7 separate regions of the Homo sapiens genome follow, and regions 1, 2, 3, 5, 6 and 7 are each reported to be linked to region 4. Evidence: microRNA targets listed by miRTarBase, many of them from high-throughput screens and not tested one by one. Region 4 holds a microRNA gene; each other region holds the end of a gene's coding sequence.
Evidence for each region. The annotated mature microRNA hsa-miR-3161 reads CUGAUAAGAACAGAGGCCCAGAU and lies in region 4 at 1,544-1,566, shown strand. An mRNA with a match to its seed (bases 2 to 7 or 8) in the 3' UTR can be bound and repressed. Matches are read on the target gene's strand: a 7mer-m8 pairs with bases 2 to 8, a 7mer-A1 pairs with bases 2 to 7 and ends in A, and an 8mer does both.

Region 1 (4,068 bases), not on the chromosome of region 4:
GCTTCCTCTATCATTTCTGATTTTGAGTCCTCTCCTCTTCTTAGTTTAGCTAAGGGTTTGTCCATTTTTTTATTTTTTTAAAAAAAACCCTTAATTTTCTGAATTTTCTCTTGTTTTATTATTCTGTACTTATTTCTACTCTAATTTTCATTATTTATTTCTTTCTGCTAACTTTGGGCTTAGTTTGTTGTTCTTTTTCTAGTTCTTTGAGGTATAAGCTAGGTTGTTCATTTGAGATCCTTAGATTTCAACGTAGGCATTTATTGCTACAAAATTCCTTTTTAGTACTTTTGCTGGATCTTGTAAGTTTTGATATGTTGTGTTTTTGTTTTCACTTGCCTTGAGATATAATTTAAATTCCTCTATGATTTCCTAATTGACCCAATGGTTATTTAAGAGTGTATTGTTTTTTCGTCATTGTGAATTTCCCACTTTCTTGCACTATTGATTTCTAATTTTACTCAATTGTGATCTTAAAAGATCTTTGAAATGACTTTTATCTTTTTAATGTTGGGGGGACTTGTTTTGAGGTCTGATGTAATTTATCCTGGAGTATGTTCCACCTGTGTTTGAGAAGAACATGTTGCTGAAGTATAAGAATATTCTGCTGCTGTTGAGTGGTATGTAATGTATATGTCCCTAAAGTCCAACTGGTGTACAGTGTTGTTCAAGTACTCTCTTTCTTTATAGATCTCCTACCTGGATGTTTTATACATTATTGAAAGTGGAATATTAGATTCTACTACTAGTATTGTATTGATATCAATTTCTCCTTTCAGATCTATCAACATTTGCTTTGTATATTTAAGTGCTCTGATATTGAATATGTATATATTTACAATTGTTATATCTTGTTAAATTGACCCTTTTATTATTATATAATGAACTTCACCTCTAGAGGAAGTTTTTGACTTTGTCTATTTTGTCTGATAGGATAGCCTCCCCTGCTTTCTTTTTTTTTTCTTTTTACCATTTTCATAATATCCTTTTCCATCTCTTTACTTCCAGCCTATATGTATTTTTAAATCTAAAGTGAGTCTCTTATAGACAGCAAGTCACTGGATCATGTTTTTTGATTCACTCAGCTACTTTAAGCATTCTTATTTGGGATATTAAGCCATTTACATTAAAATAATTACTGATTGCTGAGGACTTACTAACTGCCATTTTGTTAATAGTTTTCTGTTTTGCTCTTGTTTTAATCCTCTCTCTCACAGTCTTCCATTGTTAACTGACATTTTTGTAATGATTTACTTAAAGCTATATTTATATTATACTTATAATTTCAATATTATATAGTATTTATAATATAAGCTGTATTTATTTATTTATAGATGTGTACAACTTTATCTTATAATTATGATTATTTAGAATTAATGCTTTGAAACAAGGCTTTCTCCTCTCTCCCACAATCTATTCCATATTAATGAGTTTCTTTGCTTTTAACCATTCCAAATTATTTCTCATCAACGTTATTTGTGAACAGCACCATCACTACTATATTTATAAATATACAGCTTGATTATGACTCTCCCTGTTTCCTATTTCCCATGGAATTAATTCCAAGTATTAAGAATTGCATATAGGACACTCTGGTTTTATTTCCAATTTATCTTTTTACTCCCCTCCATAAAAACTATACTGTAATCACACTGACCTATTTTATATTTTAAAAAGTTCCATGCTCTTTTAAACTTCTGTGCCCTTGTCCATGCTGTCACTTTTGAATAAAATTCCCTTCTCTGCTTCTATATTTGGTAAATCCATTGGCAGTCCTTGAAGTACAAGTCAAACATGACCTTCTCAATTTTACAATTCTTATTTTCTTCTCTCTAAATCTATAGTGCCTTGAAATACTTGATATCTAGTATGTGCTTAATAAATGTTTCTGAAATGAGTAATTAGTAAGTCTACAAAAATATAAAGTGAAGTATTTAGTTTCATTGATGTTCTATATAAAAAGGCATCTTACATTACACAGTAATTTCTTTGAAAAGCTGTGAGTATACTGTATTTTAACAAATCGCAATGTATTCCAAGAGAATAAATTGAATAATGCTAGTGTAAAACATCCTATTGTTATATGCATGCTCTTTGATATATTTTATTTGTTTATCTTGTGTATATATAGCCTTAATATTTTTGAATATAGGAAAACCCAGTAACCAATCAGGGATACATAACTTAAACTTGTTTCTGTTTGTAGAATTTAGAATCTCAGTTTAGCCATTTTCTATAGTGCATGATTATTACTGTTATTATTTATTTTTACCAATTTTAATTAAAATATTCACTTATGACCACCTTATACAGTTCTTTGGAAGATTGTTTCATAGCACAAGATCAAAAAGAGAAAATATATTTCATGTTAGAAGAGAAGGGAAAAAATAGCATTCATATAGAACCAGATAAAAAAGAAGACCAATGAAATAATATGTTAATATTTTACTTGGAAAATACATAAAAGGCTGATAAATGATAAGATAATGCTATTTAAATTAAGCACAGTGATTGGAATACTATTTATAGAGCAGTATAAAACATGTTCTCCATATGCCTTCTCCATGGACCTCTAAGATGTTAGAAGAGACATTAGTAGGTGAAATGTAAGGATAGGTAGTTCCTTTTTCAGCGAATTGAGAGGCAGGGAAACACAGTGGCAAACACAGGCAATATCCATTGTTGCTTAAGAAAGTGAAGATTTTCCCTCTCCAAAGTTTGACAAAGATGGTGATTTTTGTTGTAGCCTTGAACCTGAGACTAAATAGTATATGTTGACTAAATAATATATTTGATTGGTCTTCAAACTGGAACATTAATTTGAAAAGGTTAATCAAAATTTCATTGGTTTATAACTACACATAATTAATTTTCTTTAATTAATAACTGTGGTTTTCTTTAAATCTGTTGACAAATATCCATGAATGGAAATGTGTTTATGTTTTAACATTTTAGAAATGCCCATTCATGTATTTTAAGTGGACATTTACTATCAAACATTATTTTCCTTTACACGTAAACAAAGCATGGTAGTTCACTTACTTATATCTTCACATACTCAACCTTTAAATCATGCCAAAGATCTTCACACTATCCTTAAATATCATGGAGTTTAGTGTCATTCACCATTTTAAATAGAACTGAAAATTAAAACCCATTGAAAAGATTCTGAAAGGGTCTTCCCAGCTTTGAAAAGTATGCCTAGAACTTTAATGCTAACATATGCTTGTATTAGAAAGAAGGTAATAAAGTGAAAGAAAATACAGTTAATAACTCAATCTATTATATTCAACCAGGTGGTTTTGTGATACTAATGCATAAGAGAGTAGGGCATTTGTTAGACCACAGACTGATTAGGATTCTGGAGTTTTTCATATTCTTCAGCATAGCATTGATACTGATCAGTGAGGAGAGGCTGGTTAGCTTCATCCATACTGCGTCTGGCACGAATCAGATAAGAAGCAGTCCCAAAAATGAGTGCAACCAGTAACAAAGCGCCAACTACTGCTATGGCAATTATCTCAGGTACACTAAACTCCCGACCTATTTGGAAAGGAAGATAAAAATAAAAAGACAAATATTAAAATAGTTATCACCAAAAAGTGGACAGATGAAATTTAGAAATGTCTATTTTAACAGAAATCCTCATATTTAATTTACATTGGCCACATGGCCTTGAAGCCACTTCCTGATTTCTTTTAATGAGTGGACCCTATTGGGATAGTCATTGTTATTTCCATTTCATTTTGTGAAAGTGAGAGAATGATGACTCAATGAGTCTGAGTCACTTACCCAGGTCACTTGGTTGGTAAGCAATAAAGTTGGCTTTGGAGCCCGGATATTTTAGAATATAAGTCTTGTACTTTTCCACTATGCCCTACTGCCTTTGTTGGGGAAAAGATTTAAACAAAAAACTTTTGAACTTCAAAATCTCAGAAAAATACCTAAGAGTATCTCACTCCCTTTTCCTTTAAGATAGATAAATGCAGGCAATATGGTATAGTAGAAAAATTGGGGCATATTCCATGGGCCTAAGCTCAAACTCATTCTCTTCCCTCATTAGAAATG
Region 2 (4,068 bases), not on the chromosome of region 4:
TCCTATGAAATAATCCCCTATTGATTATTTTTTATGTAACTTAGAGTAAGACCCTTTTGGATTTATAAGAAAAAAATTTTTTGTTTAGATTTATTGACTATGTGACCGGTAGTATCCTAAGATCTTTTTATGTATCACCTCATTTATTCCTCGCAATAACTCCGTAAGATAGGCTATTCATTCTCTTTTATTGATGAAGATAACTGGTGATAATACAAATTTTTAGGTGGTACGTTCTTTAAGGCTGATGACTAAATTGCAATCAGAATTCAGTATTTTTAGAAGTACTTATTAGGCAAAAGTAATAAATGTTTCCAGTTCTGCTTAATAATTCTCTGTTTTTAACTCTACTTCCCTACTTTTGCTCTAGGTGGTATGGCAGGACTTCAGTCAATGATGAGGCAGTTTCAACAGGGTGCTGCTGGCAACATGAAAGGCATGATGGGATTCAATAATATGTAAAGAAAATGCCTTAATATAAACTGACTCAGTTGAATACCTAATTTGCTGAGACCTCAGCGTTTCCCTTCTTTTTGCGAATTGGGGGGAAAGTGTATTTTTCTTGCTTATCATGCACTCTTTCCTTTTCTTCTCGCCCGCTTTTCCCCTCCTTTTCTTTTTCCTTCCTTCTTTCCTCCCTTTAATATAAGGGAGAAATACATGGTTTTTGTGGAAATCATTATATGTTTGCTTTAGATTTTCTTCTGTTTTCACCATCATAACACTTAAGTTAAATCATGATGTAAAATTTTAGTACTTAAAGGTTTTTAATTATCTCGAAGGCCAAGCATTGCATTTGTAAACAGTCCTGGTCAGTAGTTAAATAATGTTTCAATTAAAGTGCTGTAAAATAAACTTCAAAGTGGTTATAAGTTAAGGGGTTGTTAACTTTCTTTATGGTTAAACATTATCAGTTTATCACACTAAAAACTCAATGGAAAAGCCAGTAGATAAATGTCATTTAAAACTATGCCTGGGGCCGAGCACGGTGGCTCACGCCTCTAATCCCAGCACTTTGTGAGGCTGAAGTGTGGATCTCTTCAGCCTGGGTGACAGAAGGAGGATCACCTGAGGTCAGGAGTTCAAGACCAGCCTGGCCAACATGGAAACCCCGTCTCTACTAAAACTACAAAAATTAGCTGGGCGTAGTGATGCATGCCTGTAGTTCCAGCTACTCGGGAGGCTGATGCATGAGAATCTCTTGAACCCGGGAGGCAGAGATTGCAGTGAGCCGAGATCGCGCCTCTGCACTCCAGCCTGGGTGACAGAGTGAGACTCTGTCTCAAAAGAAAAAAAAAAAAGAAGAGGCCAAGCATGGTGGCTCATGCCCAGGCTGGTCTGGAACTCCTGAGCTCAAGTGATCCTCCTGCCTTGGTCTCCCAAAGTGCTGGGATTACAGGCCTGAGCCAGTGCACCCAGCCAATCATTGATTTTTTTTTTTTCTTTTTTGAGACAGGGTCTTGCTTTGTTGCCCAGGCTGGAGTGCAGTGGCACGATCTCGGCTCACTGCAACCTCTGCATCCCAGGTTCAAGTGATTCTCCTGCCTTAGCCTCCTGAGTAGCTGGGATTACAGGCATGTGACAAGACACCTGGCTAATTTTTTTTTTTTTTTTTTTGAGACAGAGTCTCCTTCTGTCACCCAGGCTGAAGTGCAATGGCATGATCTCGGTTCACTGCAACCTCCACCTCCCAGGTTTGAGCAATTCTCCTGCCTCAGCCTCCCTAGTAGCTGGGATTACAGGTACGCACCACCATGTCTGGCTAATTTTTGTATTTTTAGTAGAGATGGGGTTTCGCCATGTTGGCCAGGCTGGTCTCAAACTCCTGACTTCAGGTGATCCACCTGTCTCGGCCTCTCAAAGTTCTGGGATTACAGGCATGAGCCACTGCGCCTGGCCAATTTTTGTATTTTTAGTAGAGATGAGGTTTCACCATGTTGGCCATGCTGGTCTTGAACTCATGGCCTTGAGTGATGTGCCCACTCTGTCCTCCCAAAGTGCTGGGATTATGGGCATGAGCCACCATGCTTGGCCTAATCTTTCATTTTTTTAAAGCCATTTTTGTTATGTTTTCTACATACCAAAAATATACTTGAAGAACTTGATATACTTCGATGATAATAGCTAATGTATACATCTTCTAAAGGAAAAATAATTGCAAGTATTAGGTTGTCACTATTATATATTAAAAATAATGACCTGACAGGAGTTCGAGACCAGTCTGACCAACATGGTGAAACCCTGCCTCTATTGAAAGTATAAAAATTAGCTGGGCATGGTGGCAGACACCTGTAATCTCAGCTGCTCGAGAGGCTGAGACAGAGGAGTCGCTTGAACCTGGGAGGCAGAGGTTGCAGTGAGCCAAGATCGCGCCACTGCACTCCAGCCTGTGTGACAAGAGCAATACTCTTGTTTCAACAACAACAAAAAAAGAAAAGCCAGGCATGGTGGTTCATGCCTGTAATCCCAGCACTTTGGGAGGCCCAGGCGGGTGGATTATGAGGTCAGGAGTTCAAGACCAGCTTGGCTAACATAGTGAAACCCTGTCTCTACCAAAAATAAAAAAGAATTAGCCAGGTATGGTGGCACTCACCTAGTAGTCCCAGCTACTTGGGAGGCTGAGGCAGGAGAATCACTTGAACTCGGGAGGTGGAGGTTGTGGTAAGCTGAGAGTGCGCCACTGCACTCCAGCCTGGGCAATGGAGCGAGACTCCCGTCTCAAAAAAAAAAAAAAAAAATGACCTGAATTCTAAAATGAAAGTTAAAAACATAAATCATGAGACCGTGACAAAGTTGATTTGGTTTCTGGTTATCTTGGATTGCTGCATGGTTCATTTAGAACAATGGCTTTTAAATAAATTAAGGAATTGAAAATACTGGAATAATTTATTAATATTATGCCTATTCATTATTGACATCAAGTAGATAATATATATGGTATAACAGTGTATTTTGAATTAGTGTGAACTGATCTTCAGCAAGTGATTGATTTGTAGAAGTAAGAATGAAAGAAACAGTTTTTATGGTGCTAATTTTTTATGACTCTTGTTTAAAAAAGATCTTGTCGCCAGTAATCCCAGCACTTTGGGAGGCCGAGGCGGGTGGATCATGAGTTCAGGAGTTCAAGACCAGCCCAGCCAACGTGGTGAAACCCCGTGTCTAATAAAAATAAAAATTAGCCGGGTGTGGTGGTGGGCACCTGGAATCCCAGCTACTTGAGAGGTTGAGGCAGTAGAGTTGCTTGAACCCGGGAGGCGGAGGTTGCAGTGAGCTGAGATCGGACCACTGCACTCCAGGCTGGGCAACAAAAATGTGAAAATTCATCTCAAAAAAAAGAATGCAATTGAGATATTCTTGTTAACTTGGGCAAAGGTTTTATATCCCTTTAAAAACTAAAATAAAAAGGTTTTAGCTAGTTTTTCTGCTAGCTAAAGACTAGAATAACCCTGTAGAAAATTATATACCATATTAAAATGATGTATCTTGTGTTCTGCAGAAATCTTACTAAGCTATAAACATTTGACAACAGAGAAAATCCTGTTCTCCAAAGTAGTTTCTTACTAACTGATGCATACTACCTTTTCTAGGTACACGTTTGTGACTCTATTCTCAGGGTATCAATTTTGCATTTTGACCAAAAAAGGAAATTGAAATCTTTGGCCATAATAACCTTGATGGCTTCAGGCATAGTTTTAAATATTTGTGTGTCTGACACAAACAATATTTTTTAATATATATATATATATTTTATATATTTTTCAGAAGCAAAAATAACAATAACAAGATAGGCACAGCGACAAGACATTGACACACACCTGTAGTACCAGCTACTTGTGAGGCTGAGGTGGGCAAATCAGTGAATTGCTTGAGTCCAGGAGTTGGTGGTCACAATGAACTATGATTATTTATGAATAGTCACTGCTGATGAATAGCCACTGCACTCCAGCCTTGGCAACATAGGGAGGCCTCATCTAAAAAACAACTGAATGCAGTAGCTCATGCCTGTAATCCCAGCACTTTGGGAGGCTGAGGTGGGCTGATCACTTGAGCCCAAGAGTTCCAGACCAG
Region 3 (4,068 bases), not on the chromosome of region 4:
TTCCGAAGTGGCCTTATTTGCAGGGATTGCTTCAGGATGCATCATCTTCATCGTCATCATCATCACGCTGGTGGTCCTCTTGCTGAAGTACCGGAGGAGACACAGGAAGCACTCGCCGCAGCACACGACCACGCTGTCGCTCAGCACACTGGCCACACCCAAGCGCAGCGGCAACAACAACGGCTCAGAGCCCAGTGACATTATCATCCCGCTAAGGACTGCGGACAGCGTCTTCTGCCCTCACTACGAGAAGGTCAGCGGGGACTACGGGCACCCGGTGTACATCGTCCAGGAGATGCCCCCGCAGAGCCCGGCGAACATTTACTACAAGGTCTGAGAGGGACCCTGGTGGTACCTGTGCTTTCCCAGAGGACACCTAATGTCCCGATGCCTCCCTTGAGGGTTTGAGAGCCCGCGTGCTGGAGAATTGACTGAAGCACAGCACCGGGGGAGAGGGACACTCCTCCTCGGAAGAGCCCGTCGCGCTGGACAGCTTACCTAGTCTTGTAGCATTCGGCCTTGGTGAACACACACGCTCCCTGGAAGCTGGAAGACTGTGCAGAAGACGCCCATTCGGACTGCTGTGCCGCGTCCCACGTCTCCTCCTCGAAGCCATGTGCTGCGGTCACTCAGGCCTCTGCAGAAGCCAAGGGAAGACAGTGGTTTGTGGACGAGAGGGCTGTGAGCATCCTGGCAGGTGCCCCAGGATGCCACGCCTGGAAGGGCCGGCTTCTGCCTGGGGTGCATTTCCCCCGCAGTGCATACCGGACTTGTCACACGGACCTCGGGCTAGTTAAGGTGTGCAAAGATCTCTAGAGTTTAGTCCTTACTGTCTCACTCGTTCTGTTACCCAGGGCTCTGCAGCACCTCACCTGAGACCTCCACTCCACATCTGCATCACTCATGGAACACTCATGTCTGGAGTCCCCTCCTCCAGCCGCTGGCAACAACAGCTTCAGTCCATGGGTAATCCGTTCATAGAAATTGTGTTTGCTAACAAGGTGCCCTTTAGCCAGATGCTAGGCTGTCTGCGAAGAAGGCTAGGAGTTCATAGAAGGGAGTGGGGCTGGGGAAAGGGCTGGCTGCAATTGCAGCTCACTGCTGCTGCCTCTGAAACAGAAAGTTGGAAAGGAAAAAAGAAAAAAGCAATTAGGTAGCACAGCACTTTGGTTTTGCTGAGATCGAAGAGGCCAGTAGGAGACACGACAGCACACACAGTGGATTCCAGTGCATGGGGAGGCACTCGCTGTTATCAAATAGCGATGTGCAGGAAGAAAAGCCCCTCTTCATTCCGGGGAACAAAGACGGGTATTGTTGGGAAAGGAACAGGCTTGGAGGGAAGGGAGAAAGTAGGCCGCTGATGATATATTCGGGCAGGACTGTTGTGGTACTGGCAATAAGATACACAGCTCCGAGCTGTAGGAGAGTCGGTCTGCTTTGGATGATTTTTTAAGCAGACTCAGCTGCTATACTTATCACATTTTATTAAACACAGGGAAAGCATTTAGGAGAATAGCAGAGAGCCAAATCTGACCTAAAAGTTGAAAAGCCAAAGGTCAAACAGGCTGTAATTCCATCATCATCGTTGTTATTAAAGAATCCTTATCTATAAAAGGTAGGTCAGATCCCCCTCCCCCCAGGTTCCTCCTTCCCCTCCCGATTGAGCCTTACGACACTTTGGTTTATGCGGTGCTGTCCGGGTGCCAGGGCTGCAGGGTCGGTACTGATGGAGGCTGCAGCGCCCGGTGCTCTGTGTCAAGGTGAAGCACATACGGCAGACCTCTTAGAGTCCTTAAGACGGAAGTAAATTATGATGTCCAGGGGGAGAAGGAAGATAGGACGTATTTATAATAGGTATATAGAACACAAGGGATATAAAATGAAAGATTTTTACTAATATATATTTTAAGGTTGCACACAGTACACACCAGAAGATGTGAAATTCATTTGTGGCAATTAAGTGGTCCCAATGCTCAGCGCTTAAAAAAACAAATTGGACAGCTACTTCTGGGAAAAACAACATCATTCCAAAAAGAACAATAATGAGAGCAAATGCAAAAATAACCAAGTCCTCCGAAGGCATCTCACGGAACCGTAGACTAGGAAGTACGAGCCCCACAGAGCAGGAAGCCGATGTGACTGCATCATATATTTAACAATGACAAGATGTTCCGGCGTTTATTTCTGCGTTGGGTTTTCCCTTGCCTTATGGGCTGAAGTGTTCTCTAGAATCCAGCAGGTCACACTGGGGGCTTCAGGTGACGATTTAGCTGTGGCTCCCTCCTCCTGTCCTCCCCCGCACCCCCTCCCTTCTGGGAAACAAGAAGAGTAAACAGGAAACCTACTTTTTATGTGCTATGCAAAATAGACATCTTTAACATAGTCCTGTTACTATGGTAACACTTTGCTTTCTGAATTGGAAGGGAAAAAAAATGTAGCGACAGCATTTTAAGGTTCTCAGACCTCCAGTGAGTACCTGCAAAAATGAGTTGTCACAGAAATTATGATCCTCTATTTCCTGAACCTGGAAATGATGTTGGTCCAAAGTGCGTGTGTGTATGTGTGAGTGGGTGCGTGGTATACATGTGTACATATATGTATAATATATATCTACAATATATATTATATATATCTATATCATATTTCTGTGGAGGGTTGCCATGGTAACCAGCCACAGTACATATGTAATTCTTTCCATCACCCCAACCTCTCCTTTCTGTGCATTCATGCAAGAGTTTCTTGTAAGCCATCAGAAGTTACTTTTAGGATGGGGGAGAGGGGCGAGAAGGGGAAAAATGGGAAATAGTCTGATTTTAATGAAATCAAATGTATGTATCATCAGTTGGCTACGTTTTGGTTCTATGCTAAACTGTGAAAAATCAGATGAATTGATAAAAGAGTTCCCTGCAACCAATTGAAAAGTGTTCTGTGCGTCTGTTTTGTGTCTGGTGCAGAATATGACAATCTACCAACTGTCCCTTTGTTTGAAGTTGGTTTAGCTTTGGAAAGTTACTGTAAATGCCTTGCTTGTATGATCGTCCCTGGTCACCCGACTTTGGAATTTGCACCATCATGTTTCAGTGAAGATGCTGTAAATAGGTTCAGATTTTACTGTCTATGGATTTGGGGTGTTACAGTAGCCTTATTCACCTTTTTAATAAAAATACACATGAAAACAAGAAAGAAATGGCTTTTCTTACCCAGATTGTGTACATAGAGCAATGTTGGTTTTTTATAAAGTCTAAGCAAGATGTTTTGTATAAAATCTGAATTTTGCAATGTATTTAGCTACAGCTTGTTTAACGGCAGTGTCATTCCCCTTTGCACTGTAATGAGGAAAAAATGGTATAAAAGGTTGCCAAATTGCTGCATATTTGTGCCGTAATTATGTACCATGAATATTTATTTAAAATTTCGTTGTCCAATTTGTAAGTAACACAGTATTATGCCTGAGTTATAAATATTTTTTTCTTTCTTTGTTTTATTTTAATAGCCTGTCATAGGTTTTAAATCTGCTTTAGTTTCACATTGCAGTTAGCCCCAGAAAATGAAATCCGTGAAGTCACATTCCACATCTGTTTCAAACTGAATTTGTTCTTAAAAAAATAAAATATTTTTTTCCTATGGAAAAAGTGCCTTCAAAGTACTTTTCTTCTTTTCTTTTCATTTTTCTTTCTTTTTTGTTTGTTATTTTAATTTGCCTTCCTTTACTCTATTTCCCCCAAAATTACAGTTAATCCAGAGACTTCTGTCTATGGACACTGTGTGCCCACTTTTCAAATCGGGATGTGCACATCACACAAATATTAATTTTGCTAAGAGCCGTGAGCTCGTTATTCCCCATAAAACCACAAACTCTCATTTCAAAAATAATATGCAATTGTATAAAATCCTAATAATCCTCAACAGAAAATCTCTCTAGTGGCACCTGAATTGCACAGTCAGAATAGTTACCTACAAAGTTAGCTGTCTCAGGAAAAAGAGGGAAATGTACTCTTATCTTACACTTAATTCCAGATCGATCTAGTGTCCATAGAAGCAAAGCAGCGGTCTATCGCTTCATTTTTC
Region 4 (4,068 bases):
AAGGAAATAAAAAGTGTTTTATTAGATGGCAAAGAAAGATGGACTGGACTTATGAGACTTTGAGAATTTTTGCTTTTTCTTTGTTAATGCAAACTTTGGAAGAGAGCAACTCTTTCTGTAATGCAATTTATTTGTACAATGTGGTAGTTATTGTTAATAGCTAATAATGATCTTCAACTGGGTAAAATACCATTGTGTGTTTGAGAGGGAGAGAGAGAGAGAAGGGTAGGAGGAGAGGGAGAATATCTTTTGTTCAAAGCCAAATGTTGCTACTTCTGAAGACGAGTGCACCTTATGGGTATAGCCAGCTATAATGTTTATCAAACATATACTTTTTTTTTTTTTTTTTGAGATGGAGTTTTTGCTCTGTCACCCAGGCTGGAGTGCAGTGGCATGATCTCAGCTCACTGCAACCTCCACCTCCCAGGTTCAAGTGATTTCTCCTGCCTCAGCCTCCCTCGTAGCTGGGATTGCAGGTGCACGCCACCACACCCAGCTAATTTTTGTATTTTTAGTAGAGACAGGGTTTTGCCATGTTGGCCAGGCTGGTCTTGAACTCCTGACCTCAGGTGATCCACCCACCTCGGCCTCTGAAAGTGCTGGGATTATAGGCATGAGCCACCATGCCCTGCCTCAAGCATCTATTTTGTGCAAGAGCTTGCAGAAGTTCTTTCCTGCCACAGCCGTGGTTGGCCACATTGCTCCCCCATGAATATGTGGAAACTGACACTTCAGGAGAATTGGTGGCTCACCCATGGCATTCAGCTAGTGGGTTATGGGGCAGAGACTCAAACTCAGCCCTGACTCCCACAGCATTGTTCTTTTTCTGTAAATTGCTGACTTACTCAGTTGATCACAGTTCATTGCCGTTTACAGAATTTGTCTGCACCCATTGTGCCTTTTAAGTGTCGATTTTCTTTCCTGAAAGCACACAAAGCAAAGCACGGCTCTGCAGTGTGACCCACCGTGTGCTGTGTGGACAGATGATGCTGGTCAGCAGGCAGGAAAACGATCTGCCAGGCGCTGGGGGTGGGGCAGAGGATTGTTCTTCCTGACCTTGGTATGAAAACCGTATGGAGTTCTTAGTGAGGAAAATCACTCTTAGCCCAAATTCCTGCGAAGGCCGATGGGATTGTTTTTAAGATTTGTTGGATTGCTGGATTTGTTGAAGGGAGAACTGGAAGAAGCTATCAGAAGTTTACAGGGCATCGGAGGGAGACACTCCCTTTGGCCACTTTCTCCGCCAAAACTATCCTGGTTTTAGCCCAACAGTTTCCCACGCCCGCCCCCACCCCCACAACCTTGTTTGTTTAAAGACCATTAAAGAACGTCTTCAATTTATTCTGGATTGAGTTTTCCTCAAACCAAACCACCCCTCAGTTCACCCCCCAGAGCTGTTGAGGCCCTTCCTGGGGGCTTGTGGCTGTGGCTGCCTCAGATCAGAGCAGACCCTGGGCTGCATCATCCTTCCACATTGTCTCTCTAAAGTACCTGAAGCCAGTAGTTCTCAAACTTTGGAGAGGGTTTTGAGTCACCTCGAGAGCTGATAAGAACAGAGGCCCAGATTGAAGTTGAATAGTGCTGGGCCTTTGTTTTTACCAAGTTCCCTGGATGGTTCTGCTACCTCCTAGCCTGTGAGAACTACTCCTTTGTGATTTCTTGCCATTGAAATTTTTTCTCACCTTCTTCTTGGCTTGAGTGCTCTTCTGGGTTCCTTCCGGCTGTCCAAATCAAATTTAATTTTCACACCCAGACCTTGTCCCTGCTCTCATCCTTCAGCCCACCCTCCTGTTCCCCATTCAGCCAGACCCCCTGCCAGTCAGTTCAAGTGCTAGGCATGGGGTATCGAGTCTCAGGCCGGTCCACAGACATTCCAGCACCTGGTGGTAAGAGGTGAGTGCTGCGTGGACCCACTGAGGAAGGCTCTGGCTGTGCTGGGGGAGGGGAGTTTATGCTCGTCCTCATAGAAGGATAAGCAGGAATTAAGTGGGCAAAGGAGGGAGTGAGGAAGCTCTCACTTTCTAGGTAGTAGGACCAGCATGAACCAAGGTAGGGGATGACAACATGGCTCATTCAGGGAATTTGAGGTATGTTGATACATGGAAAAATGTACCTGAAATGTGAGTCCTGCTTTTGTGACTCACCCTTTCCTTTACATAAGCATTGATTTACATCTGTTGTTTTTTAAGATAGTGTGTATGTTGAAAAGTTCAGAACAAGATCAAGTGGAGACATAAAATGGTAAGATGTGAAAAGTTGTTCTTGCCAGATTAAATGGTTCCACCTGAAGAAAATTTTTTTTTTTTTTGAGATGGAGTCTCACTTTGTTGCATGGGCTGGAGTGTAGTGGCGTGATCTCAGCTCACTGCAACCTCCGCCTCCCGGGTTCAAGCAATTCTCCTGCCTCAGCCTCCCGAGTAGCTGGGACTACAGGTATACACTGCCAAGCCCGGCTAAGTTTTTGTATTTTAGTAGAGACGGGGTTTCACCGTGTTGCCCCAGGCTAGTCTCAAACTCCTGAGCTCAGGCAATCCCCAGCCTCAGCCCCCCAAAGTGCTAGGATTACAGGCATGAGCCACCGCACCCGGCCTGAATTTTTTTTTGTTTTGTTTATTTATTTCTTGGTTTTGCTGGCCTTTAAGCAACCCAAGACTAGGGGGCTTTCACTCCGTCCCTAGAGAGCTCAAAGGGCCTGACTTAGGGGACACAGTCAGTGAAGGGGATGAATGAATGAGTTTCAGATCCAGGTGTTCTGGATAAGTCACTTTACCTTTCTGGGCCTTTTTCCTCAACTCCAAACAGAGGATGTCGGTATAGACAATCCCTAGGATCTTGTCCCCTTTATGACTGATCACACAGTTCCACTGCTTGCCCTTGAGGCTTTGGTGTCCGCGCATGCCTATTCAGTCTGACCCACAAGAGGCCAGGCCAGCTCTGTTCCAGGCCCTGAAAATCCCATTAAAACTCCACTCACTAGCCTGTTCCCTGGGGGTGCTGAATCAGCATTTAATGGGGAAGGCCACGAGCTAGGCTCTGGTGGGTAGGAAGTGTGTGACTTCTCTTACCTCAACAGTTTCTACTGTAACTAGCGGGATAAGGTAAATCTATGGAAATGCAAGGCTTATGCCGAGGCTCACAGAGTGGGCCAGGCTGCATAAGTCCTGGACACCACAGGGCCTGCTTTGAGAAGGCAGCTGTGGTCCCACAGCCTTGACCACCAGGCACCATCCTCTGTTGCCAGTGGACCCACATTTCAAATCATTTTATCTCTTTTTTTTTTTTTTTTTTTTTGAGACGGAGTTTCGCTCTGTCGCCCAGGCTGGAGTGCAGTGGCGCGATCTCGACTCACTGCAAGCTCCGCCTCCCGGGTTCACGCCATTCTCCTGCCTCAGCCTCCTGTGTAGCTGGGACTACAGGCACGCGCCACCATGCCCGGCTAATTTTTGTATTTTTAGTAGAGACGGGGTTTCACCGTGTTAGCCAGGATGGTCCCGATCTCCTGACCTCGTGATCCGCCCGTCTCGGCCTCCCAAAGTGCTGGGATTACAGGCGTGAGCCACCGCGCCCGGCCTTTATCTCTTAAATAACCTGTATTCATTTGTTCCTTCCCATGTCTTATCCACCAAAAATCTCCAATTGGAAATTCAGACAAGGATTGAGACCCTGTGTTCTTAAATTGGGTTGATTGAAATCTAGAAACAATGATAGTAATAACAGAGTTATCTTCTCTCGAACATCTGCCTCCTGCCTGATGTTATTTCGCTTAATTCTCTCAAGGGCTTGAGGAGAGTCCTGCCATAATCCTTCCTTTCAGAGGGGAAGATCGAAATTTAGCTCAGATCTCAAGCTAGTAATCATCAGAACCAGGATATAGAATCAGGACTAGACCACATGGTCCCTGCTCTGAGCTGCTGCGGGTCCATCCCTGTGGCTCTGTCCAGGGTAAATGGATGATTCAGGGGAAGGGTCAGCAAACTATAGCCCATGGGCCAAATGCAGCCACTGCTTGTTTTTGGGTGGCCCAAGAGCCAAGAATAGTTTCCACATTTTTAAATGGGTGGAGAAAAC
Region 5 (4,068 bases), not on the chromosome of region 4:
AGTAGAGACGGGGTTTCACCATGTTGGCCAAGCTAATCTCGAAATCCTGGCCTCAAGTGATCCACCCGCCTCGGCCTCCCAAACTGTTGGGACCACAGGCGTGAGCCACCGCGCCTGGCACAGTATTATTCTTTCGTGCTTGTCTTAAAGTTGTACATATGCTTAGAAAAATGTTGGTAGGATAGTAACTCTTCACTGGTGGGATCAGGGATGACTTTTGTTTTCATTTTGCTTGTCTTTTTCTTTAATGAGTATGTATTACTTGTGTAATAGATGAAGTAAAGCAGGAAGAAGGGTAGACATGGTATTTGAGATACAGCATTGGAGGTGTTTGTTTGTTTGAGATGGAGTCTCACTGTCACCCAAGGTGAAGTGCAGTGGCACAATCTCGGCTCACTGCAACCTCTGCCTCCCGGGTTCAAGCAATTCTCCTGCCTCAGCCTTCCCAGTAGCTGGGATTACAGGCATCTGCCACCACACCCAGATAATTTTTGTATTTTTAGTAGAGATGGGGTTTTGCCATGTTGGCCAGGCTGGTCTGAAACTCCTGACCTCAGGTGATCCGCCTGCCTCACGTGGTGGCTCACGTTGTAATCTCAGCATTTTGGGAGGCCGAAGCAGGCAGATCACCTGAGCACAGGAGTTCGAGACCAGCCTGGCCAAGATAGTGAAATCCTATCTCTACTAAAAATAAAAGATTAGCTGGGTGTGGTGGTGCATGCCTGTAGTCCCAGCTACTCGGGAGGCTAAGGAATGAGAATAGTTTGAACCCAGGAGGCAGAGATTGCAGTGAGCTGAGATTGAGCCACTGCACTCCAGCATGGATGACAGAGCAAGACCCTGTCTCAAAAGAAATAAAGGTCAGGCGTGTTGGCTCACGCCTATAATCCCAGCACTTTGGGAGGCCAAGGCAGGTAGATAACTTGAGGTCAGGAGTTTGAGACCAGCTTGGCCAACATGGTGAAATCCTGTCTCTACTAAAAATATAAAAAAAATTAGCTGGGCATGGTGGTGCCCGCCTGTAGTTCCAGCTACTCGGGAGGCTGAAGAATGAGAACCGCTTGAACCTGGGAGGCAGAGGTTGCAGTGAGGCAAGATTGAGCCACTGTACTCCAGTGTGGACGACAAGAGTGAGACCCTGTCTCAAAAGAAAAATAAAGGCCAGGCGTGGTGGCTCACACCTGTAATCCTAGCACTGTAGGAGGCCGAGACAGGCAGATCACTTGAGGTCAGAGTTTGAGACCAGCCTGGCCAACATGGTGAAACCCCATCTCTACTAAAAACACAAAAATTAGCTGGGCACAGTGGCAGACGCCTGTAATCCCAGCTACTCGGGAGGTTGAAGCAGGAGAATCAGTTGAACCTGGGAGGCGGAGGTTGCAGTGAGCTGAGATTGTGCCACTGTACTCCAGCCTGGGCGACAGAGCGAGAGTCCGTGTCAAAAATAAATTAAAAAACAAAGTTTTAAGAACAGCCTTTAGGTTTCTATAGCCCACTGCGAAAAGGGTATGGCATGATCAGATATTTGCAGGAGTGAGAAATGCAAATTTAAACAATCAAACAGCATCTAACACATCTTTAACAATTAAATACCATAAATATAACAAAACCATAAAAATACTGATAAGCTTCTACTATGAACTACATGATAGTGACAGGGCAGTGACAGCAAAGGTCCTATCTGCCCACTGTTGTATTACCAGCATCTGGATCGTAGAATTTTGCTTGGCATGTGACAGGGCTTTGTCATTTATACTGAGAACAGATCCTCAAGTTATCAATAATAATTGATAAAAGCAACAGTAATCAGTATTTTAATTGCTGTAATTGGACATTTGAAATAGCAGTAAGATTCTACAGAGTGGCAATGACTGAGTTGGAATGTAGGTGTTTCCATTAATGTCCTACATATATTTAAATTCGGAGTAGCCATTTTTCCTGGTAAATTGTGAAAGCAGGACATGGTTCTCCAAGGTTCACAGGTAAACCATCCCACCAGAGCACTAATGAGCAGACTGCTACATTTTACTTTATTTTGCTTGTAAGGAAAACAAATTGACTAAGCTGTCCCCGAATTTCTAGTTATAACAGATGTATTTCTAAAACAAGCAGTAAATTAACAAAATTATGGCAGACAGTGCCATATTCCCGGAATTCCAGAAGCCCTGGATTAATGATGAGACCCGAGTTAAGTCCCAGCACTGCCACTTACTGGCAGCCATCTTAAAGTCTATTTCCTTATTTGTAAAAGGGACCTCTTAATCCGGGATTGCCTACACCATGGCACCATTGTAAAAATCTGGTTAAGTAAACTGTATAATGAGACATAATTGAAGATCGATTGATTTTATTTAGAGATGGGGGTCTCACTGTTATCCCAGGCTGGAGTGCAGTGGTGCAATCATAGCTCACTGCAGCCTCAACCTCCGAGGCTCAAGCGATTCTCCCACCTCGGCCTCCCAAGTAACTGGGACTGTAGGCACATTCTGCCATGCCCAGCTCTTAATATAAACTTTAAAATGTGGCTGGAGATTATAAGGGCCCTAAAGCCTTTGCCTGCTTTGTATTTTCTGCCAACCCCTCATTTCCCAATCTCTGCCAGAACCCCAGCAACTAAAAGAAAGGCGTCCAGTTTTCAGTTGTCAGAATCCCTCACTAAGCAGGATGCTCTGCACAGAGCCCTTTGCTGGGAAATTCCTCTGGTTCCATCTCTCTCCCAATGTTTACTGACCAGGGATCCTTCCTTTCTGCCTTTGTCCTTCCCTCTCTCCAAGGTTCACAGGTAAACCATCCCACCCCAAAGAGCACCAAAGAGGCAGACTGCTACATTTTACTTTATTTTGTTGTAAGGAAAACCAATTGACTAAGTTGTCCCCAAAATGTTAGTGTTCACTGATCAAGAAGGAAATGAGGTCAGAAGGCAAACTTTTCACTTCTTCTCAAACATAAATTGCAAGTATCACAGAAAATTGTAACAACACATGCAACACGGGATGGCTTTCAACACACAGAGAGCCTAAGCAAGAAGAGTGAGTACTGAAGGTCTACAGAGGTCAGACTGGGAGCACTACCACAGGAAGTTTGAATCTATCCACGCAGCTCTTTCCTCCCACAGTCCAGGCTCAACACCTCTTCCTATTCCAAGGTGGCTTATCCATATGCAGAAATCCAGGCTGTTCCATATACATTAATACTTGCCCAGCTGTGTTTCACGAGGCATCTCCATAAGCCAAGCCCCGACTCAAATTCTGTACAGGAAGTTCCCGTTGCTGTCAAAGAACTCTCGGCCCCTCTGCACTACTTTGCTGCTGAAGTTATCTGGCTCCTCTGCCTTCAACTCCTCCAGCTTCTGACCACTTGGCAACGCACCACTGCCAGTTCCTCTGGGGCTCTCAGAATCACTGGAGTACTTCTGCAGCTCTCTTGGATGACCTAGGGGTGCAGCAACAGGCACAAAGCTCTCCTCCAGGTCCTGGATTTCTTTATTTCTTCCCTTCCTTCTCCTTGGTGTATTTGTCCTGTGAGTGTCTGACTCTATCACTTTCAAAGCTGTGCTGTGATTTGGGTCTTTAGATGAGGCTTCATGCCCTGGCATAAGCAAAGAGCCTGATACAGAGTGGCCTGCAGGGAGCAGCTTTGAGGTATTTCCAGAGCCCCGGAGGTGCTGCAGCGAGTGGGCAAGCCCAGCTTTCTTAAGGACTTTTTGATCCTGCTTCAGCTTCTGCTCCAATGTGGGTAAAAACTTGCTTTTTAAAACTCTTCGGATCACATCAGTGCTGACATCAAAGCCTTCAGCCAACCTGGGAACTGACCAGGACTCTGGAAATTCCTCATGTAAATACCTACGGGAAGAAGGAGCAGGTTTGCAAGTTGTGAAGAAGTCTCCTATCAGAACATCTAACTCGCAATACCTATGATAAAGAAGAGGGGTTGAGGCCTGGCATGGTGGCTCACACCTGTAATCCCAGAACTCTGAGAGGCCGAGATAGGCGGATCACTTGAGCCCAGGAGTTCGAGACCAGTGATTCTTGTGCCTGAGCCTCCGAAGTAGCTGGGATTACAGGCATG
Region 6 (4,068 bases), not on the chromosome of region 4:
GCCTTGGCCTCCCAAAGTATTAGGATTATAAGCATGAGCCACTGCACCCAGCCTATTTCAGTACTTTACATGTTACCAGATTTATTCCTTAGGTAAACTGTCCTTCTATCTCTTTTATTTTTATAGATGAAAGAAACTGAGGCTCTTTTAAACTTTCTCAGGTCACAAACAATGTAGAAGAAACCCGAACCGTCATTAACATAGACTATTACACATGGGGGAAAATGGGTTTTAAAGTAATATATATGGAAAGGCTTTTTGACACTGAAAGGTTGGGAATCTCTGTGATCTTCTTACACATGGGTCAGGCTAAACAATTTGCTTCAGGGTACATGAGCGCAACTGGTTATTTAGCTAGTGCATGATCCATACTCAAATGAGTCATTATTGAATGACTGGTGAAATGACAAAAAGCCTCATGTTCTACTAAGGCTGTGGATAGCACAGAGCACACTGGGGGCAGAGGCTGAGCGTGTTTGTGTAGGAGCACTCAATACTGCATATGTTTCAATAATTAACTAGTGTATTTAAGAAACTTCATTCTACGTGGGCATGGTGGCTCACGTCTGTGAACCCAGAACTTTGGGAGACCGAGGCAGGTGGATCACCTCAGGTCAGGAGTTCGAGACCAGCCTGACCAACATGGCCAAACCCCGTCTCTACTAAAAATACAAAAACTAGCCTGGTGTGGTGGTGGGCGCCTGGAATCCCAACTACTCCAGAGGCTGAGGCAGGACAATCGCTTGAACCTGGGAGGCGGAAGTGGCAGTGAGCCGAGATTGTACCATTGCACTCTAGCCTGGGCGACGGAGCAAGACTCTGTCTCAAAAAAAAAAAAAAAAAAAAAAAAAGTAACTTCATTCTAGCATTCGTAGGGAATGGAGAGGTGGCCACTATCCAAATGAAACTAAAAACCTTTTTCTTCCCAGACTCATACTCCAGATTATGCACACAGAGAATACAGAAAACTATGGGAAAACTGGACATTGCACATTTTCATATGACATCATCTGTTATTTTTTTTGTCTTGCTCTGTCACCCAGGCTGGAGTGCAGTGGCGCCATCTCGGCTCACTGCAAACTCTGCTTCCTGCGTTCAAGGGATTCTCCTGCCTCAGCCTCCTGAATAGCTGGGATTACAGGCGTGCACCACCACGCCCGGCTAATTTTTTATATTTTTAGTAGAGATGGGGTTTCGCCATGTTGGCCAGGCTGGTCTCAAACTCCTGACCTCAGGTGATCTGCCCGCCTTGGCCTCCCAAAGTGCTGGGATTACAGGTGTGAGCCACCGCGCCCGGCCGACATTGTCTGTTTTAAGGGAGGTATTCCTCAGCTCTTCGGTGATAAACTGCTGATGTATTGCACTGCCTGACAGTCACCAAGTTGGAACATGATAAATACTGCAGATGTGTAAGGCACAAAATGAGACTTATACAAAGTAGAGATGGAATCGCAAGAATTCCCAGGCCCTCTTTTTATTTACAGTGATACCAAACCATCCACTTGCAAATTCTTTGGTCTCCCATCAGCTGGAATTAAGTAGGTACTGTGTATCTTTGAGATCATGTATTTGTCTCCACTTTGGTGGATACAAGAAAGGAAGGCACGAACAGCTGAAAAAGAAGGGTATCACACCGCTCCAGCTGGAATCCAGCAGGAACCTCTGAGCATGCCACAGCTGAACACTTAAAAGAGGAAAGAAGGACAGCTGCTCTTCATTTATTTTGAAAGCAAATTCATTTGAAAGTGCATAAATGGTCATCATAAGTCAAACGTATCAATTAGACCTTCAACCTAGGAAACAAAATTTTTTTTTTCTATTTAATAATACACCACACTGAAATTATTTGCCAATGAATCCCAAAGATTTGGTACAAATAGTACAATTCGTATTTGCTTTCCTCTTTCCTTTCTTCAGACAAACACCAAATAAAATGCAGGTGAAAGAGATGAACCACGACTAGAGGCTGACTTAGAAATTTATGCTGACTCGATCTAAAAAAAATTATGTTGGTTAATGTTAATCTATCTAAAATAGAGCATTTTGGGAATGCTTTTCAAAGAAGGTCAAGTAACAGTCATACAGCTAGAAAAGTCCCTGAAAAAAAGAATTGTTAAGAAGTATAATAACCTTTTCAAAACCCACAATGCAGCTTAGTTTTCCTTTATTTATTTGTGGTCATGAAGACTATCCCCATTTCTCCATAAAATCCTCCCTCCATACTGCTGCATTATGGCACAAAAGACTCTAAGTGCCACCAGACAGAAGGACCAGAGTTTCTGATTATAAACAATGATGCTGGGTAATGTTTAAATGAGAACATTGGATATGGATGGTCAGATGAAAGATACCAAAATGTCAGACAGCCCATCGACTGGTGTTGCCATGAGATTCAACAGTCAACATCAGTCTGATAAGCTACCCGACAAGGTGGTACAGCCATGGAGATGTCACGATGGTAGGCAAAACAAGCAGACAGTCAGGCAGGATTTGATAAAAAAACAAAAACAAAAACAAACCAAAAAAACCCAGGCATTTCTGGCCTGTTAAGATCGAACCCCAATTCTATTCTATTCTGACATAATGCTCATAATGCTCCTAAAGGAAAAAAGTAAAATTGTTTATTTTCCTCCCAAGCAAAACAAAATGAACAAGTTCAATCAAAAACATCCCAATGGAAAAAAATCACACTAAGAATAAAACACTTACAGAACGGCAAGAAAACTGGGTTAACATATAAATTTGTGTCTGTTGAAACCAGAGTACATGCTAGAAAACATTAACACAGATACGACAGAGTGTGGTTTTTTTTTAGAAATGGGTAATTTCTCTCTCCAGTATCCTTTCACTTGTATGAGATATTTCTCCTCTCCTGTTTTCACAAACCAAGAAATCCCCAGGTAGGCCAATCCCAGAGGTGCCATTTAGCAGTATGCAGCAGCCCAGTTTCAGCATAACAAAACATGCCTTGGTAGTGGCTCTCTCATGCAAATAAAAGAAAGCTTAAGAAATTCTTGTTGTAGGTGGATTAGGCAAGGCTGCCATTCAGCTGGTATAAGCTAAAAGTAAAAAATCAAAACGCTCAAGAAAACGGACACAATTTTGGAATGATTAAAGATGTCTTTATAAAGTTTTTTTCAAGACTTCATTCTAAATACACAGAATAAAAAATGGTGTCAGCTCACTTGTAAGACACCAACCAGATTTTCCTTATACTGTCTCAAAATTTAAAGATCAATTTCCCCAGAGGGTGTGCAATGCATCATAAAATGGCCCTTTTTTGAGGATGGGAGAGGAAGGGTTGGGCAGGATGGAATATTAAATTGTAACATGATAAACATGCAAGACTGTTATCCAATCTAGATAATTTATATACATTTTGATGACTTAGGAAAACAAAGCAATCATTTGTGACAAGCCTAAAAAGCTTGACATATTTAACATACTTAGGAACTTTTTTTGTGCGGTGGGAATTCTCTAATTGTATCATGTGGGCCTTTTGAAAGTAACAAACAGAAGGCCAGTCTGTTGCAAGTTTGCTGCTGAACATCACATTCCACCCTAAGAAAACACAAGGTGGATTGCATCGAGGGTGGATACCTTACCTTAGCACAGAAGGAAAAAGTATGTCAGTGCAAAGTATGGACTAAACTGCTTTCAGGAAAAAAGTTGTAAAAATTGATACAGGTTGGAAAAGGGAATTTTCCTTCCCGGCTTGGAGTCCTCCCAATTTAAGGCAGAACCCATCCACTCCAATTTCTGCAGTTTAAAACTTTCTCTACTTATTTAGTTTTCTCCTCTGAGTTCAACCGCTGCTGGATTCGTTTGGCATAACTTTGTGCCATGGAGTTAATGATAGATAGGATGAAGTAACACACCATGACAACGACCAACTTTTCAAACATCCAGGACAACCAGTTTTCTCCCTGTAGAAATAAATGCAGAACAATGCAATGAAAAAGGCTTCATTAGTTCAGTAGTAAAAAGAGGATCATCTATAATGCTTGAAGTGTGTAACTTACAAAACCTAAAGAATTAAAAATGAAAAGTAAGCAACCCCAACTACTC
Region 7 (4,068 bases), not on the chromosome of region 4:
TTTTAGTAGAGACGGGGTTTCACCGTGTTAGCCAGGATGGTCTGGATCTCCTGACCTCGTGATCCACCCGCCTTGGCCTCCCAAAGTGCTGGGATTACCGGCGTGAGCCACCGTGCCCGGCCTAGAGACAGGCAGGCCTTAATGAAACTTTCATCTTTATGTTTTAAAGGAAATCTTTAAAAGTTTAAAGAACTTTAGGTTAAAAATTGGGAGATTGCCACTCACTTTTGGGACTATTATTATGGTAAAGTCACAGTTACCTAATTAAGCTTTTGTATTTTCAGATCAAGCCAAGTCCAGCTGCTTCCAAAGAGTACTTTCAGAAGGTAAATCAGTAGATCACCCATGTGTATCTGCACCTTCTCAACTGAGAGAAGAACCACAGTTGAAACCTGCTTTTATCATTTTCAAGATGGTTATTTGTAGAAGGCAAGGAACCAATTATGCTTGTATTCATAAGTATTACTCTAAATGTTTTGTTTTTGTAATTCTGGCTAAGACCTTTTAAACATGGTTAGTTGCTAGTACAAGGAATCCTTTATTGGTAACATCTTGGTGGCTGGCTAGCTAGTTTCTACAGAACATAATTTGCCTCTATAGAAGGCTATTCTTAGATCATGTCTCAATGGAAACACTCTTCTTTCTTAGCCTTACTTGAATCTTGCCTATAATAAAGTAGAGCAACACACATTGAAAGCTTCTGATCAACGGTCCTGAAATTTTCATCTTGAATGTCTTTGTATTAAACTGAATTTTCTTTTAAGCTAACAAAGATCATAATTTTCAATGATTAGCCGTGTAACTCCTGCAATGAATGTTTATGTGATTGAAGCAAATGTGAATCGTATTATTTTAAAAAGTGGCAGAGTGACTTAACTGATCATGCATGATCCCTCATCCCTGAAATTGAGTTTATGTAGTCATTTTACTTATTTTATTCATTAGCTAACTTTGTCTATGTATATTTCTAGATATTGATTAGTGTAATCGATTATAAAGGATATTTATCAAATCCAGGGATTGCATTTTGAAATTATAATTATTTTCTTTGCTGAAGTATTCATTGTAAAACATACAAAATAAACATATTTTAAAACATTTGCATTTTACCACCAGTAACTGTTGGATCAGCTTATTTTGGGCTCTCCTTTCCTTCTCAGATTATCAACAAACATTTATTGAGCATTTACCTCAGGGGCCACAAAGAGAATAAGATGCTGGTTCCGCACTCAAGGAACTCGGTTTAGGGGCAAGACAGATAGGGAAACATTTTCTCGTTGTTTCAGTAAATCCTTGAGTGCCTACCCCGCACCAGGTGCTGTTTTCCAGGCACAAGAGCGAACAACGGACAAACCCCTGCTTTTAAGCTCTTACATTCTAGAGGGGAAACACCTCATACATGTAGTAAAAGTAGAGTGTTTGGAAGGAAAATAATGTGGAGTGAAACTGCTGAAGCGGAGTTGTAGGTGTTCTAGATGGGGTTGTCAAGGAAGGCCTTAAGGGAGAGCCTCTCTGGATCAATTTTCTCATTGTAAAATGAGGACAATAATTGTACTTATCTCAGGGTTTTGATGAGCATCGAGGGAGAGAAAACGCGTAGAAAGTGAGAGTATTACGGGGATAAGAGACTTCTAGGCAGAGGGCAGGGAAAACACAAAGGCCGTGAGGCAAGAGTGGGCTCAGAGCGGATGCAGATTTACTAGGAGGCCGGTGACTATGGCTGTGGTGGGGGTCCCAGAGTGCCTTTTGGCCAGGCCAAGGACTTTAGGTTCTGTTCTGGGGTGGGGAATGTCAGGAAGGATTTGAAAAGAAGAGTGACATCAACTTGTTCTAAGAGAATCACTCTGGCTCCTTTGTTAAGACGACATAGCAGTCCAAAGTGGGGAAGCAGGCCAGCGGGCTGGCTTTGTGACATCCTGGAGGGTAGAGACAACAGAATAGAACAGCACGCTACATACTGCACTGGTGCTTAGATGGATTTCTGCGGCATAAGGGTAGAAGTGGAGGGGGCACCTTACTCAACTCGGAGGGTCAGGGAAGGCTTCCTGGAAGAGGAGATAAACCCCTGGAGGTTAAGAAAAGTGAGCTAGGCAAACTGAGCAAATACAGAAGCAGAGTCATACAGGCCTGAAGGACGCCATGAGCCAATTTCCTGTTCCTGGAGGCGCAGGGCAAGGGAAGGAATTGGCCCGCTGGAGGTTAATGGCCAATACTGAGCACTTCTGAGGGCTCAGTGCTGTGTTAGGGATGTTTTATCTCCTTTGATCAGAAACAAAACCCTGAGATAGGTACAATTGTTATCCTCATTTTGCGGATGGGAAAATAGACTTCGAGATACTGACTTGGCGAGGGTCACACAACTAGATGATGTGCTGGGTCCCCCAGTCCTGGACTCCGGAGGCCCCCTGAACGACCTAGGCACACTTGTGGCTTCCGTGAATTTAAGTGCACACAGCCCCCGCCTGGCCCTGTGCTGGGGAAGGGCAGGTGGGAGGAGGAAGGGAAGGCAGGTTTTTCTTTACAAATGGTACCTATTTGGTAGTCAACAAAAGGAACTGGATTTGCCCCAACACTGGAAGAAAAAAAAAAACAACCTGTTGGGCTGAGGGATAGTGCACTGTGCCCAGGGCCCTATACTTGGTTTGATGCTCTGGTGTTACTCTCTTGAAATTCTCAGTAACATGAATAAGGGGCACCGCATTTGACATTTTCCCTGGGCTGAGACCATGATGCAGCCGGCCTGACTGCGCAACACCATGCACACTGGAATTCGTGGGCCATCGGAGGGATTTTCGAGGGTAATGACCAGGGGTAGGGCGCGGCAGAAGCGCAGGGTGAGGTTGCGGACGGCCTCACTCACAACCTTTCCGGGTCTTCGCATTAGGTACTGTGATGACGGGTTCCGATAGTGACCCCTTGGGGCCTGGAGACGGCCCGGCTCCCCAAAGGTGCGGAGCAGGGCAAGCAGGGTTGGGAGGACGTGGCCCGTGGGAGAGCTGCGCTCGCCGGAACAGTGGGCGCGCAAGGGCCCCGAGGCGCTGTGACACGGGACGTCGGGCGCGCGGGCCTGGGGCGGGAACTGCGGGTGCGCGCGGCCCGGGGCGGGGCTCGCCGCCCGGCTCCTCCTCCACGCGCGGCCTGGCGGCGGCGGCCACTCTAACCAGCGCAAAATGTCCCTGGAACAGGAGGAGGAAACGCAACCTGGGCGGCTCCTAGGACGCAGAGACGCCGTCCCCGCCTTCATTGAGCCCAACGTGCGCTTCTGGATCACCGAGCGCCAAGTACGGCCCGGGCCCGGCGCGACTAGGGGCAGGGAGGGGGCGGGCCGGGCCGCGTGGAGTCGGGCTGACCCGGGTGACCTTGGCCAGGCCACGTGGGCGCCCCCTGTCTCCGTTTCCTCCTCTCGGAGTTGTGCCGGGAACGCGCACCACCGGCCTTCACCCCTTAGGGCGCGGCAGGGGACGCAGGGGAAATCGAAGCTGCCAGATGCCCACGACCACAACGTCACCCTCCAGATTGCCCTCTCGGAGGGGCCCAGTCCGCGCAGGTGGCTGCTCCCTACTGCCTGAGCTGTGGCTGAGCAGCAGATTGGGGAGAAACAGGCTCTCGCACCTTGGTAAGCTCAGCCACTTTCGGTGAGACCCCCGAGGCTTTGGGAAGCCACCCTTGGGCAGGACATAAGCAGGACTTATCTCCCTGCAGCGTCTAGGGCAGCACCGTCCAATAGAAATATGATGTGAGCCTTACAGGTAATTAAACATTTTCTAGTAGCCACATTAAACAAGATAAAAACAGCTGAAATTTTTAACAATACAGTACATTTAGCCTAGCAGGTGCAAAATATTAACATTTCAACATGTAATCAGTAAAAAACATTGCTGAGATATTTTACTCGCTTTTTTGGTACAGAGTGTTCCAAATCCGGCGTCTGTTACCTTCACAGCACATCTGGGTTCAGCCGCATGTGGCGAATTGGAGAGCAGGGCTTTAGGGGGTTCTCTTTGAGGCCTCTCCTAAAGTGGGGTCCAGCCCTGTTTTTTTTTTAGGTGGGGAAATTGAGAAGGGGCG

Region 1: the mRNA of TYRP1 is a reported target of hsa-miR-3161. Seed matches in the 3' UTR shown: 7mer-m8 at 2,477-2,483.
Region 2: miRTarBase lists SRP54 as a target of hsa-miR-3161. Seed matches in the 3' UTR shown: 7mer-m8 at 566-572.
Region 3: the mRNA of EFNB2 is a reported target of hsa-miR-3161. Seed matches in the 3' UTR shown: 7mer-A1 at 1,250-1,256 and 7mer-m8 at 1,472-1,478.
Region 5: miRTarBase lists NGRN as a target of hsa-miR-3161. The part of its 3' UTR that is shown has no 7-base or 8-base seed match.
Region 6: miRTarBase lists VMP1 as a target of hsa-miR-3161. Seed matches in the 3' UTR shown: 7mer-A1 at 2,491-2,497 and 7mer-m8 at 2,412-2,418.
Region 7: the mRNA of PRDX3 is a reported target of hsa-miR-3161. Seed matches in the 3' UTR shown: 7mer-A1 at 1,005-1,011.

Annotation. Positions count from the first base shown.
Region 1 is chr9:12,708,452-12,712,519 of GRCh38, reverse strand. It overlaps TYRP1 (tyrosinase related protein 1), which reads right to left. Exons shown (of 8, transcript NM_000550.3): 8 at 2,235-3,543. The coding sequence ends at 3,338. All of the region lies in intron 3 of LURAP1L-AS1 (LURAP1L antisense RNA 1), which reads left to right. Among named protein-coding and RNA genes, the nearest start is that of TYRP1, 17 kb to the right of the region's middle.
Region 2 is chr14:35,028,691-35,032,758 of GRCh38, forward strand. It overlaps SRP54 (signal recognition particle 54), which reads left to right. Exons shown (of 16, transcript NM_003136.4): 16 at 371-877. The coding sequence ends at 462. Among named protein-coding and RNA genes, the nearest start is that of FAM177A1, 16 kb to the right of the region's middle.
Region 3 is chr13:106,489,309-106,493,376 of GRCh38, reverse strand. EFNB2 (ephrin B2) reads left to right here. Exons shown (of 5, transcript NM_004093.4): 5 at 1-3,632. The coding sequence ends at 337. It overlaps LOC124903247 (a long non-coding RNA gene), which reads right to left. Exons shown (of 2, transcript XR_007063940.1): 2 at 3,577-4,068. Among named protein-coding and RNA genes, the nearest start is that of EFNB2, 44 kb to the left of the region's middle. RefSeq lists enhancers at 1-249, 397-897.
Region 4 is chr11:48,095,248-48,099,315 of GRCh38, forward strand. It overlaps MIR3161 (microRNA 3161), which reads left to right and starts at 1,535; the gene lies at 1,535-1,611. All of the region lies in intron 1 of PTPRJ (protein tyrosine phosphatase receptor type J), which reads left to right. RefSeq lists an enhancer at 2,379-2,879.
Region 5 is chr15:90,270,962-90,275,029 of GRCh38, reverse strand. It overlaps NGRN (neugrin, neurite outgrowth associated), which reads right to left. Exons shown (of 3, transcript NM_001033088.3): 3 at 2,819-3,842. The coding sequence ends at 3,242. It also overlaps the pseudogene PERPP2. Among named protein-coding and RNA genes, the nearest start is that of NGRN, 7.3 kb to the right of the region's middle.
Region 6 is chr17:59,839,626-59,843,693 of GRCh38, reverse strand. VMP1 (vacuole membrane protein 1) reads right to left here. Exons shown (of 12, transcript NM_030938.5): 12 at 1,439-3,926. The coding sequence ends at 3,783. MIR21 (microRNA 21) reads right to left here and starts at 2,428; the gene lies at 2,357-2,428. RefSeq lists a silencer at 1,173-1,367 and an enhancer at 2,653-3,382.
Region 7 is chr10:119,164,750-119,168,817 of GRCh38, reverse strand. PRDX3 (peroxiredoxin 3) reads left to right here. Exons shown (of 7, transcript NM_006793.5): 7 at 285-1,098. The coding sequence ends at 338. It overlaps SFXN4 (sideroflexin 4), which reads left to right and starts at 3,104. Exons shown (of 14, transcript NM_213649.2): 1 at 3,104-3,281. The coding sequence starts at 3,171. RefSeq lists silencers at 2,956-3,425, 3,467-3,653.